3 linked regions of the Homo sapiens genome follow. The protein of the gene in region 3 interacts with the protein of the main gene of each other region in a pairwise test. Each region holds a gene or a part of one and is shown on either strand. Other genes may lie near its edges.

The links.
Region 1: the proteins of ZNF844 (region 3) and NDEL1 interact in binary tests that used the Homo sapiens proteins (3 or more experiments, as listed by UniProt).
Region 2: the proteins of ZNF844 (region 3) and MESD interact in binary tests that used the Homo sapiens proteins (3 or more experiments, as listed by UniProt).

What each region holds. Positions count from the first base shown.
Region 1 is NC_000017.11:8,452,868-8,456,618, reverse strand, and holds part of NDEL1 (nuclear distribution protein nudE-like 1), read right to left. Parts: intron 1,824-3,751; coding exon 1,732-1,823; intron 1-1,731. UniProt on the Homo sapiens protein: Required for organization of the cellular microtubule array and microtubule anchoring at the centrosome. May regulate microtubule organization at least in part by targeting the microtubule severing protein KATNA1 to the centrosome.
Region 2 is NC_000015.10:80,988,027-80,991,777, reverse strand, and holds the start of MESD (LRP chaperone MESD precursor), read left to right. Parts: upstream 1-1,958; 5' UTR 1,959-1,986; coding exon 1,987-2,199; intron 2,200-3,751. UniProt on the Homo sapiens protein: Chaperone specifically assisting the folding of beta-propeller/EGF modules within the family of low-density lipoprotein receptors (LDLRs).
Region 3 is NC_000019.10:12,062,407-12,066,157, reverse strand, and holds the start of ZNF844 (zinc finger protein 844), read right to left. Parts: upstream 1,428-3,751; 5' UTR 1,285-1,427; coding exon 1,282-1,284; intron 1-1,281. UniProt on the Homo sapiens protein: May be involved in transcriptional regulation.

The sequences.
Region 1 (3,751 bases), on a different chromosome or scaffold from region 3:
GCTGATGCAGGAGAATCGCTTGAACCTGGGAGGCAGAGGTTGCAGTGAGCTGAGATCGTGCCGCTGCACTCCAGCCTTGGCAACAAAGCGAGACTCCGTTCTCAAAAAAAAAAAAAAAAAAAAAAAGATATAACCTAATACATTCAGAAACAAAAGTTCAAGAATGTTAAAGTAATTTTTTTAAAAGAACAAAAAATAAAAATAAAAATATCTTTGCTTAAAGTTGAGTAAATCAAGATAAACAGAAAAATAAGCACATGATTTCAAGTTATAAAGACAAATACTCCAACATAGAGGATTTTAAAATGGTTATCTTGGGAGTGAAGAAAGATTACTCTATGTACTGTAGGAACGACCTGTGCACTTTACTTTGTATTTTAACCTTAAAAATGCAGGTTTAATCTGATGGTTAGAAAATAACCCCTATGATGAGCTGAAACAGGCAAACATAGGACCTGTGTCTTGGCCTCCCATATCTGCTTTAGATAAAGTATAATGCAATTTCTACATTTTTTAGAAAGTGTCACACACGAAAATAAGTGAAGGGGGTAGTAGATAGTGGGAAATGGCAATGGTTGATTACTGAAAGGAGAGGTAAAACTCACTAAGGGAAATAGTAATGGGAGCTAATGCTAGAAATGCTGACTTGATAGTGGCATAAATCCACATGGTTCTGCAACTGTTTCCAGTAATTCAGACTGCAGATCTCCTTTGTGGCCAGAGAGACCATGAAGTCAACAGTGACAGAGTAAGAGATGTGTGAGATCACAGATGAATAGAAAGGAAGTGAAAGCAAGAGATGGCTGATAAAAACAAACACACTAAAAAATGGGGTAATACTCTTGATGAGGTTAAAGAGTAGGTATGGTACACAGTAACACACTGATTAAGCAGAAAAACGGGTTTAATTTTTTTTTTTTTTTTTTTTTTGAGATGGAGTCTTGCTGTCTGTTGCCCAGGCTGGAGTGCAGTGGCTCGATCTCGGCTCACTGCAACCTCCGCCTCCTGGGTTCAAGTGATTCTCTTGCCTCAGCCTCCCAAGTAGCTGGGATTACAGGCATCTGCCACCATGCCGACTAATTTTTGTATTTTTAGTAGAGACAGGGTTTCACCATGTTGGCCAGGCTGGTCTTGAACTCCTGACCTCAGGTGATCCACCCGCCTCAGCCTCCCAAAGTGCTGGGATTACAGGCGTGAGCCACCGCGTCCGGCTGGGTTTAATATTTCAGAAGCGAAACTGTTCTGGAATACAAGGCTCACACCAAGGAGAAGGCACTGAAGTTGAGGTGGCCAAGGAAATAAGGTGGGCAAGACTAAAAGTAGAGAGTAATGCCATGAGCCAAATGTTAAAGTCCCACAAACACAAAACAAAGGAATGACCAGGAAGACGGTAGACAGCAGCAAAGACCAGGATGAGGGTGGTAGAAGACACACAGCAGGCCTTAGACAAAGTATTCTAGACAAGGACAGAGGCATCGTGCTGTTGAAACAGGAGTGGGGAACAGGAAGAATGCCCCGGTGGGAACCTCAGAGTTCAAGGTACAGGCTCTTCTGCAGGGGCATCATGAAGTGTCATCTGGACTTGGCTAGTCAATGGATGCTTTTGCTTCTGAGCTTCATGACAGCCTTTACCACAGGAAAGTATCCTTTCTTTCTTCCCTCACTTCAAATTAAGAAATAATTCAATACCTTGTCAGTGGAAACACCTAGTGATAAATAATTGAAACTTACCCCTACTTTCCGTAAGAGATCCCCCACGATGTTTAGTGCTGATATCCTAGCAGAGGGAGTTAGTGGACTGGTACCAAAACCATTTGGTATAGCTAGAGAAAAATAAAAGCTGAGTGATTACACTTGCAGTTCCCTTTACATTTGGGTTTTGTTGTTGATGTTACAAAGTAGTGTAACACTCAATACAATATCAACAAACTACTTCAAACTATGGATAAAGTATAGATACCATAAATAGGCTAAACCACTGTCCAATTGGTGGATATTTACATTATATCAAATTTTTCGCCATTATAAGTAATGCTACAAGGACATATACTCTTAAACATCTAGACAAGTATTTCTGGAAAAGAGATTCCTAAAAATAGAACTGCTGGGTCAGAACATATGCCCATTTTTTTCACCTTAACAGACACTGCCAAAATGCTCTCTAAAAAGCCTGTGCTAATATCAGCAATCTATGCGGTGGTGCCCTTGATAATATTAGATATTATCTTTTTTTTTTTTGACAATTTGATAGTCACGTTTTTTAGTTTCTATTTCCATAGTAACTAGTCATTTGAATCTCTTCTGAAAATCAGCTGTTTAGTCTTTGTACATTTCTCTACTGGTTTGTCTTTCCTGTAATCAATTTGTAAGAACTCTATACATTCTGGATGTTCACCCTTTCTCTTATAGATGTTCTATCTCTCAGCGTGACATTCATCTTGTAAACACTGTGTTTCGGTAGGAGAACCTTTGGCTTTTCCATCTTAATGTCATAATGTTTCCCATACTTTCTCCTAGTATTTTTCTGATTTTTTTACATTTAGATCATTTAATTCACCTAGAAATTATAGTTGTCTATAAGATACATATCTAAATTTTTTCCTCCAAATGGAGAGCCAATTGTCCTAGTATCATTTAGGGAAAACTCATCTCATCTGAAATAGCACTATAACTATAAACTAAATTCCCTAAATATATGAATATATTTCAGTTCCATTGAACTATTAGCCTATTCTATCAGAAGTATGCTACTTTATTATAATGTTAAAATATATTTTGAGATCTCAAAAGGCAAAGATCCCTCTTGTTATTAGCCCATTTCAAATTTTTCTCAGCTGTTCTTGCACATTTACTATTCCAAAATAATTTTAATATCAACATATCAATTTTTTAAATCCTATTAGGATTTTTATTAGAAGTTGAAATTACAGATTGACTTGGGGAGAATGGATATTGTAAGAAAATTAAGTCTTCCCATTCAGAATCATAGTATTTACCATGATATTTACCCATATCTTCTTCCACACTCAGTAAGGTTTTCAGTCGTGCACATTTCTTAATTTTTAAGAGATAATATGACATCATGATTAACGGCTCTTGAGCTGAACTACTGTATTCAAATCCAGTTCAGCCACTGGGTAAGTGACCCATATGTAAGAGGGGGCAAATAACAACTACCTCATCATAAAGATGTTGTGAAGTTTAAATTAATGTACTTTAAAAATGCACGTAGTAAGTACTCAATAAAGGTTAGCTATTATTTTTTATGTTTGTTTTCCACAGAGTGCTAATCAGCAACGAAAATACTTGTGTGGCTTTTTTGTTGTTTATTATCCTTCTTCTCCTCAAGAATATAATCTCATTGAAGGTAGGGGCTTTGTCTTACCACTGTGCTCCCAGCATCCAGAATAACACATGACACATAACAGGCGCTCAACGTGATATAAAAAACCGCTGTACTGTTCTTGGCAGGGATTTCTAGATCTCATTTTTCCCTATTCAAGTTTTACATTTTAGGTGTTATTAAATCTGTGCTTTTATGGTAAGTTGCTTTAAATGCTTTTTAGAAACAAACATTGTAGGCTGGGCATGGTGGCTCATGCCTGTACTCTCAGCACTTTGGGAGGCTGAGGTGGGTGGATCACCTGAGGTCAGGAGTTTGAGACTGGCCTGACCAACATGGTGAAACCCCATTTCTACTAAAAATACAAAATTAGCTGGGTGTGGTGGCACACACCTGTAATCCCAGCTA
Region 2 (3,751 bases), on a different chromosome or scaffold from region 3:
TTGCCCCTTAACTTTGAAGCTGGCAATATGAATTACCAGGGTGACCCCTCCCAGTAGAGCACATGATCAGCCACAGCTGTGCATGTTTTTTAGTATGACTGCACTAGGATAGGGCTCCAAGCCACTGGGTGGAGCAATGTGCTCTGGGGAGAAAGCTCATGACATTTCCCCTATGATTTCACAAAAGAAAAAATCTTTTTCTTATGAGTTGTTTCTGCTCAACGTCAATAGGAAAGGTCATAGCTTAGCGTGTTTACATACAGATGCATGCATGAATATGTAGAATATCAGCCACTCCTACGGTGTGAGAGAATTTAAATTGCACTGGTCCTAAGAGTGAAGGAAAGCAGGCGTAGTTGCCTACTCAACCTCCACTTTATTCTTTTCCCTTTATAACAATCCTAATTTCATTTGAGATGACAATGTATACAGCTAGAAGACAATTTCTCAGCCTCCCTTGGAGAGCTAGGTTCCAGCCAATGAGATGTAAACAGAAATGTATGCAATGTTCAAGTAGGCTGCTTAAAAGAAGTTGACTCCACTTGAAAGGTGTGCTTGGTTTGGCCTGCCTTCTCCCTTCCTCTGGTTGAATGTCATCTTGATGACTGGAGCTCCAGGAGCCATCCTGGAATTTCTGACCTTGAGGGTGGAAGCCACAGGCTAATATGATAGAAGGATGAGGAAGAGGCTGAGTACCAGATGGCTGAGAAGCCACTATACCAGCCCTAGTTTCGAGTTTACACTGCTTCTGTGAAAGAAAAGTCAATCACAATAAAACCTTTTATCTTGTTTAAACCACCTTAAAAAGTCAGTTTTCTTTTATATGCAGCCTACTAATCCTATCCAAACAAGGCTTGAATAAGGTTTACTACAGCTCTTTTTTGTTGTAATAGCAGAAAAATTGGTAATAAATGCCCATCAATAGGAAAATAAACTATTAATTTAACAATACCAAATAAAACTGTGCAGCAGTATAAAGAATGAAGCGTTTTTTGTTGTTGTTTTTGAGATGCGGGTCTTGCTTTATTGCCCAGTCTGGTCTCAAACTCCTAAACTCAAATTATCGTCCTACCTCAGCCTCCCAAAGTGCTGGGATTATAAAGGCTTAAGCCACCGTGCGGCCTTTGGTTTTTTTTGTTTTTTGTTTTTTAAGGTCTTATGTAATTAAACATTTTAAAGACATCAGCTGATGAGCCGTTTAAAACAAGAAGAATCTCAAAGCATCTTTGGCCAAAATCTTTTTAAGAAACAAAAAGTAGCGTGATTCAGCCTTGAAAAGGATTAGTTAGAGCCTACAGTATTAGGTTGAAATCAAAGAAAGGCAAGCTTTTTTTTTTTTGGATGAATAGTAATGATCTTTTTGGAAAAAAAAAACAAATATTGAAAGCTGGTTGAACTGAATCCTCTTTATTGATGAGGAAAGCAGTGGACTCGAACTATTTATGACTTTCTGAAAAAAGTTGCCCTACCTGCCACTCACTTCTTTTTAACTGGCTGTTCTCAAAGGAAATTGCAAGAGACTGAGGATAAACGTCCGACATCCAGAAATGGGCTTTTTTAGAGCCGAGGCAGCCTCCAGAACTTCCAGTTCCAATTTATTTCACAGGCGAGAAACTGAGGTCAACAGGGACGTTGGTTAGTGGTTCCTGGAGGCCCTGAAGGAACTTTTGGACCTGGCTTGTGCGTTCCAGAGAAAAAGGTCGGCCTCTGACGGAAAACGAAAAATGAGCACTCAGGGACCCACCCAGCCGGGACAGAGCGCCTCAGCCGGACCAAGAGGAGGAGCCAGTGGGGCGGGGCCAAAATGGCGGAGGGGCGGGGCTTCCAGAGGCGGGGGTTAGGAAATGGTACGGGGCGGGGCCCGGTAGGCTAGCGAGGGCCGGGAGGCGGGGCCTCGGAAAGGCGGACAGGAAGGCGTGTGCAAGGCGGGGTCCGGCCCGCGCAGGTCGGGTAAGCGCGTCTAGGGCGCTGCGCGGCGCAGCGAAAATGGCGGCTTCCAGGTGGGCGCGCAAGGCCGTGGTCCTGCTTTGTGCCTCTGACCTGCTGCTGCTGCTGCTACTGCTACCACCGCCTGGGTCCTGCGCGGCCGAAGGCTCGCCCGGGACGCCCGACGAGTCTACCCCACCTCCCCGGAAGAAGAAGAAGGATATTCGCGATTACAATGATGCAGACATGGCGCGTCTTCTGGAGCAATGGGAGGTCCGCGGCGCGCGCACACCCTCCCGGCTCTTCTCTGTGCGGGACCCTGTTCCCTATGACCCCTTACCTGTTCTGTCTTGGGACCTTTCTGACCCCCTAACCTCCTCTACTCATGCCTTGAATCCTTACTGACCCACTGAAGCCACTGTTGACCCTCCATTCCTCCTCTGACCCGCGCGCCCTGCTGACCCTCGCTCCAGCCCTCTGTCATTCCAGTGCCCTGTTCCTCCTGCCATTTCTCAAACCACTTCAATCACGGATCTGCCCCTCACTGTTCAGCTTTGCTCTCCCTTCACCCTTCAGTGCCCTGGTTGTCTTTGCGTTGATTCTTGTGGTCAGTGAGCCCTGCAAACAGGGAGAGTGACCTTTCCCAATCTACTAAAGAGCATTTCCTTCTGTTTTGCGGTGAGTGGGTGGGAGAGTGGGTTGCAGTGAAGATGGTCTTCCTTAATGGTTATCTCAGCTGTCTTCTAAATCAGTATAATTTTAGACTTCCTATTTTGGTATATGTCCCTGCTGGGAATTTTGTGCTTTTTGTGGGTGGATTTATTTTACTGAGGGGAGAAGTATCAATGGCTAATGGCTCTGTATCGTGAAACTCACGCTTTTTGTTCAAAGGAGAGTAAGTTTTCTGGTTTGTCACTTGGACGCACCGGAGTGTGCAGTTACAGGGAGTGTGTAATACGCTTTAAGGTAAAGATTACTGGCCAAAACCACATTGCTGCCTTTTCCCCTTCCTAAGGTGATTGTATCGTCCTGGTTGACTTGCATAGCTGTGGAACCTTGGGCAGGTTATGTCTAGTTTCTAGGCCTCGGTTTCTTTATCTGCAACATGAGGAGGTTAGGATGGGTCCTAAGATTCCTTCCAACACTGATGTTTTGTTATTTTGTGATTATCTCTGTGTGTGTTACGGGAGAAGGGAAAGACTTTCAGACAAGAGTTTAAAATACCACCTGATGCATCTGACTAGAAGAATGCAGGCTTGTGTTTTCATGTGGTCATCAACAGCTGATGGAAAGATTGGGATAGATTTGAGTGTAGAGAGAACGTCCCCATTCACCGTCTCCCTTGCAATCTCCTTGTCTCTTTTTGGACTCCAGCAAATAAAGCCTTTTGATCTGCCAGAGTGAGAACATCACCTCATGAGAAATCCTCCCCTTGACCTACTCAGACCCTGAGCTAGACGAAGAGGGTGCTGAAGAGATGAACAAAGATTGCACTGGGAACAGTAGATAACAGGATGGATGAGTGGGGAGAGACTTTGAAGGCCAAGAAAAACACATTATCTCATTTAATCCTTTTACCCCATCCATGAGGGAGGTACTTATCCCTATTTTCTAGATGATGACATTGAGACACAAAGAGGTTAAATAACTTGCTCCACATCGCACAGCAAGCTAGCTGAGTTTCAAATTCTTTCGCGACTTTTAGAGCCAGTTCTTTGAACTGTTTTACCTGTACTGCCACACATGTTGGTGACAGAAGTGCAAATGAAGGATAGTGAGGAAGACGTGGATTAAGCTAGAAACTGCAGGAGCAGAGTAGAAGGGA
Region 3 (3,751 bases):
GCCCAGGAGTTCAAGACCAGCCTGGGCAACATGGCGAAACCCCATCTCTACCAAAAATACAAAAATTAGCCGCCTGCGCCTGTAGTCCCAGCTACTCGGGAGGGTGAGGCAGCACAATCACCTGAGCTGCTGCTCAGGTGGGTCCAGGATGCAGTGAGCCGTGATCGCGCCATGCACTCCAACCTGGGCGACAGAGTGAGACCTTGTTTAAAAAACAATTTTTAGCCGGGCCAGGTGGCTCACGCCTGTAATCCTAGCCCTTTAGGAGGCCGATGCGGGCGGATCACCTGAGGTCAGGAGTTCAAGACCACCTTGGCCAACACGGTGAAACCCCGTCTTTACTGAAAATACAGAAATCAGCAGGGCGTGGTGGCGTGCCTGTAACCCCAGCTACTAGGGAAGCTGAGCAGAAGAATCGCTTGAATCCGGGAGGCAGAGGTTGCACTGAGCCCAGATCGTGTCATTGCACTCCAGCCTGGGCAAAAAAGAGCGAGACTCTGTCTTAAAAAAAAAAAAAAAAATTGTAAGAAAAAAATATTAAAGAAAAATCCCTAACTATAAGCCTTCGGGGAGACTGATTTGAGTGCTAACTCTGTCTCCGTCTTCGGCGTTGCGTGGTCCATCTCGTGTCAAACATTTTCTTTACTGCAATGCCCTGGTCTTTCTTTTTGCAGCACAGGCAGGAAGAACCCCTCAGGCGATTACAACAACAAAGCATCTAGTACACATTGATCATGATGTGAACAAAAACACGACAGCAGTTGCCAAGCTCTAAGCCACAGACAGCAGGGAAAACATTTATCCGCTGTCACAAGTTCTCCACGCTAGGCCAGGCGCGGTGGCTCACGCCTCTATTCCCAGCACCGGGCCTGTTTAAGTTTTAACAGGAGAAAGGGGGCACTGAGGGCCTCACAGCGCAGCTCCTCCCGCACGAGCCCCACACCCAAGGCGGGATTGCCCCCATGACCCTCCCGTGGCCCCGCACAATATGGAGAGGCTCCGGGCTGCGGGCGCGGAGCTGTCCAGAGAGGGCTCCCGGGCTGGGGCCGCAGTCGCCGCGCGGCGACGAGACAGGGCGCCCAGGGGTCCCGGCTGCCGGCCCAGCCGCACCCGGCGGCCGAATGGACCGAAGGCCGAGCTGCGCCAGCGGGGCTCGGGCCCCAGACCTCGAGTCGCCGCGGGGAGGTCCGGGTCCCGGCACAGCCGGTTCCAGCCAGTTCCAACCAGCCTCCGCCTACCCTCCCCCAAGTCTCGGGACTCCCAGCGGGGGCTCACACTCACCATTTCCTGGCTTTCAGGTGACTCCCACGTCCAAAGCAGTCACAACACAGACGACAGGGCGACAGAAGTATGGCGGTGGCAACCGGTCCCTCTCAGAGCAGGAAAAACGGGGTGCCAACCTCACCCGGCGGGAGGGGCCAAAGACTGAGGCGAACGGCAATGTGACCCGCGGATAAACAGTTGGCCGGGCCCCACCCCGGCGACTCTGATTGGGTGGAGCGCCAGGCCCCGCCCCCTGCATCCTGAGTGACAGCAGAAGTCCTGGGTAACAGGGCCAAGCAGAGCAGGACTGACCGCTTCAAGCCACAGTCCAAGGTCAAGTTCCCTCTCTACGCCCTGCTCTTTGAAAATTTGCATTTCGGCCAAACTTGCTCGTCTTAATTACTAGAAGTGGCTCTGTCAATGGTCTGTCCCTGCTTCTTCGTCCTGCACAGTGTCATAAGTGTGTGCAGGGAGTTCCAGACTCTATGTTTAATAGAGGTGAAAGCAATTAAAATATTTTATTCCAAAATATATTTATTTGGCAATTTCGAATGGCTGCAGCTTTGCCCTTGCACAACTGTCTTCTGGGGGGTGAAATTTGCGTCTATGGAGTATTTCCATTAGTGAAGCCATGCCCCCTCTCCCCTTTTCCCTTTCCCTGATCCGGGAGAAATTGAGAGTCTGACACTTTTAAAAGTCTGGAAAGCCGGGCGCGGCGGCTCACGCCTGTAATTTCAGCACTTTGGGAGGCCGAGGCGGGTATATCACCTGTGGTCGGGAGTTCGAGACCAGCCTGGCCAACATGGTGAAACCACATCTCTACTAAAATACAAAATATTAGCCAGTCGTGGTGGCGGACGCCTGTAATCCTAGCTATGTGGGAGGCTGAGGCAGGAGAATCACTTGAAGCTGGGAGGCGGAGGTTGCAGTGAGCCGAGATCATGCCACTGGACTCCAGCCTGGGCAACAAGAATGAAACTCCGTCTCAAAAAAAACAAAAACAAAAAAAGTCTGGAAAGAGGCCAGGCAAGGTGGCTGGGGCCTGTAATACCAGCACTTTAGGAGGCCAGGGCAGGAGAATCACTTTGGCCCAGGAGTCGAGGGCTGCAGTGAGCTGTGATTGCACCAGTACACTCCAGCCTGGGCAACAGAGTGAGACCAAAAAACAAAATAAGTAAGAAATTCTGGTTTTGCTTTTTTTTTTTTTTTTTTTTGAGATGGTGTCTTGCTCTGTTGCCCAGGCTGGAGTGAGTGACGCGATCTCGGCTCACCGCAAGCTCCGCCTCCCGGGTTCACGCCATTCTCCTGTCTCAGCCTCCCGAGTAGCTGGGACCACAGGCGCCTGCCACCATGCCTGGCTAATTTTTTGTGCTTTTAGTAGAGACGGGGTTTCACCGTGTTAGCCACGATGGTCTCGATCTCCTGACCTCGTGATCCGCCCGTCTCGGCCTCCCAAAGTGCTGGGATTACAGGCGTGAGCAACCGTGCCCGGCCAGAAATTCTTAAAAGAAGCATTTTGCATCCATTCTCTCTGTGGGAGTCTTCATCTATGTTGTGGGTGAGTGGCTACTATCTGGGCCAGTGGCGCAAGGGTAAAAGAATTTATCAAGACTGGCCGGGCGATGTGGCTCACACCTGTAATCCCAGCACTTTGGGAGACCGAGGCGGGCGGATCACCTGAGGTCAGGAGTTTGAAACCAGCCTGGCCAATGTGGCGAAACCCCATCTCTACTAAAAATACAAAAATTAGCCGGGCTTGGTGGTGGGCGCCTGTAATCCCAACTACCCAGGAGGCTGAGGCAGGAGAATCGCTGGAGAATCGGGAGGCAAAGGCTGCAGTGAGTCGAGATTGTGCCACTGCACTCCAGCCTGGGCAACAGAGCAAGACTCCATCTCAAAAAAAAAAAAAAAAAAAAAAAGGGATTTACCAAGACAGTTGTAGGTAAAAAAAAAAAAAAAAAAAAAAAAAAAGGCAGATTTATTAAGGAAAATATGAAAGTACCTTGCAAGAAGGCAACAGGCAGAACCAGCAGAAGGGAGCCGGCTGCAAAGAAACAAAGGTTTGCTAGAGATTTTATAGAATGCAACTTGGGAACTTGCATTGTTTTGTCACCTGAAATGTTTGATAAATCAAGGTTTTTGATGGTAAGCAAGAAATTTGTGAGTTATGTACATTATTTGTTTAGGAGGGCTATTTGTTCTGGGCCGTAAAGAAAGTGATACCTATGGCCAGGCACGGTGGCTCACGCCTGTAATCCCAGCACTTTGGGAGGCCAAGGCGGGCAGATCACCTAAGGTCAGGAGCTCAAGACCAGCTGGCCAACATGGCGAAACCCAGTCTCTACTAAAAAATACAGAAATTAGCCAGGCCTGGTGGCGGGTGCCTGTAATCCCAGCTACTCTGGAGGCTGAGGCAGGAGAATTACTTGAACCTGGGAGGTGGAGGTTGCAGTGAGCGAGATGCTGAGATTGAGTGACTGCACTCCAG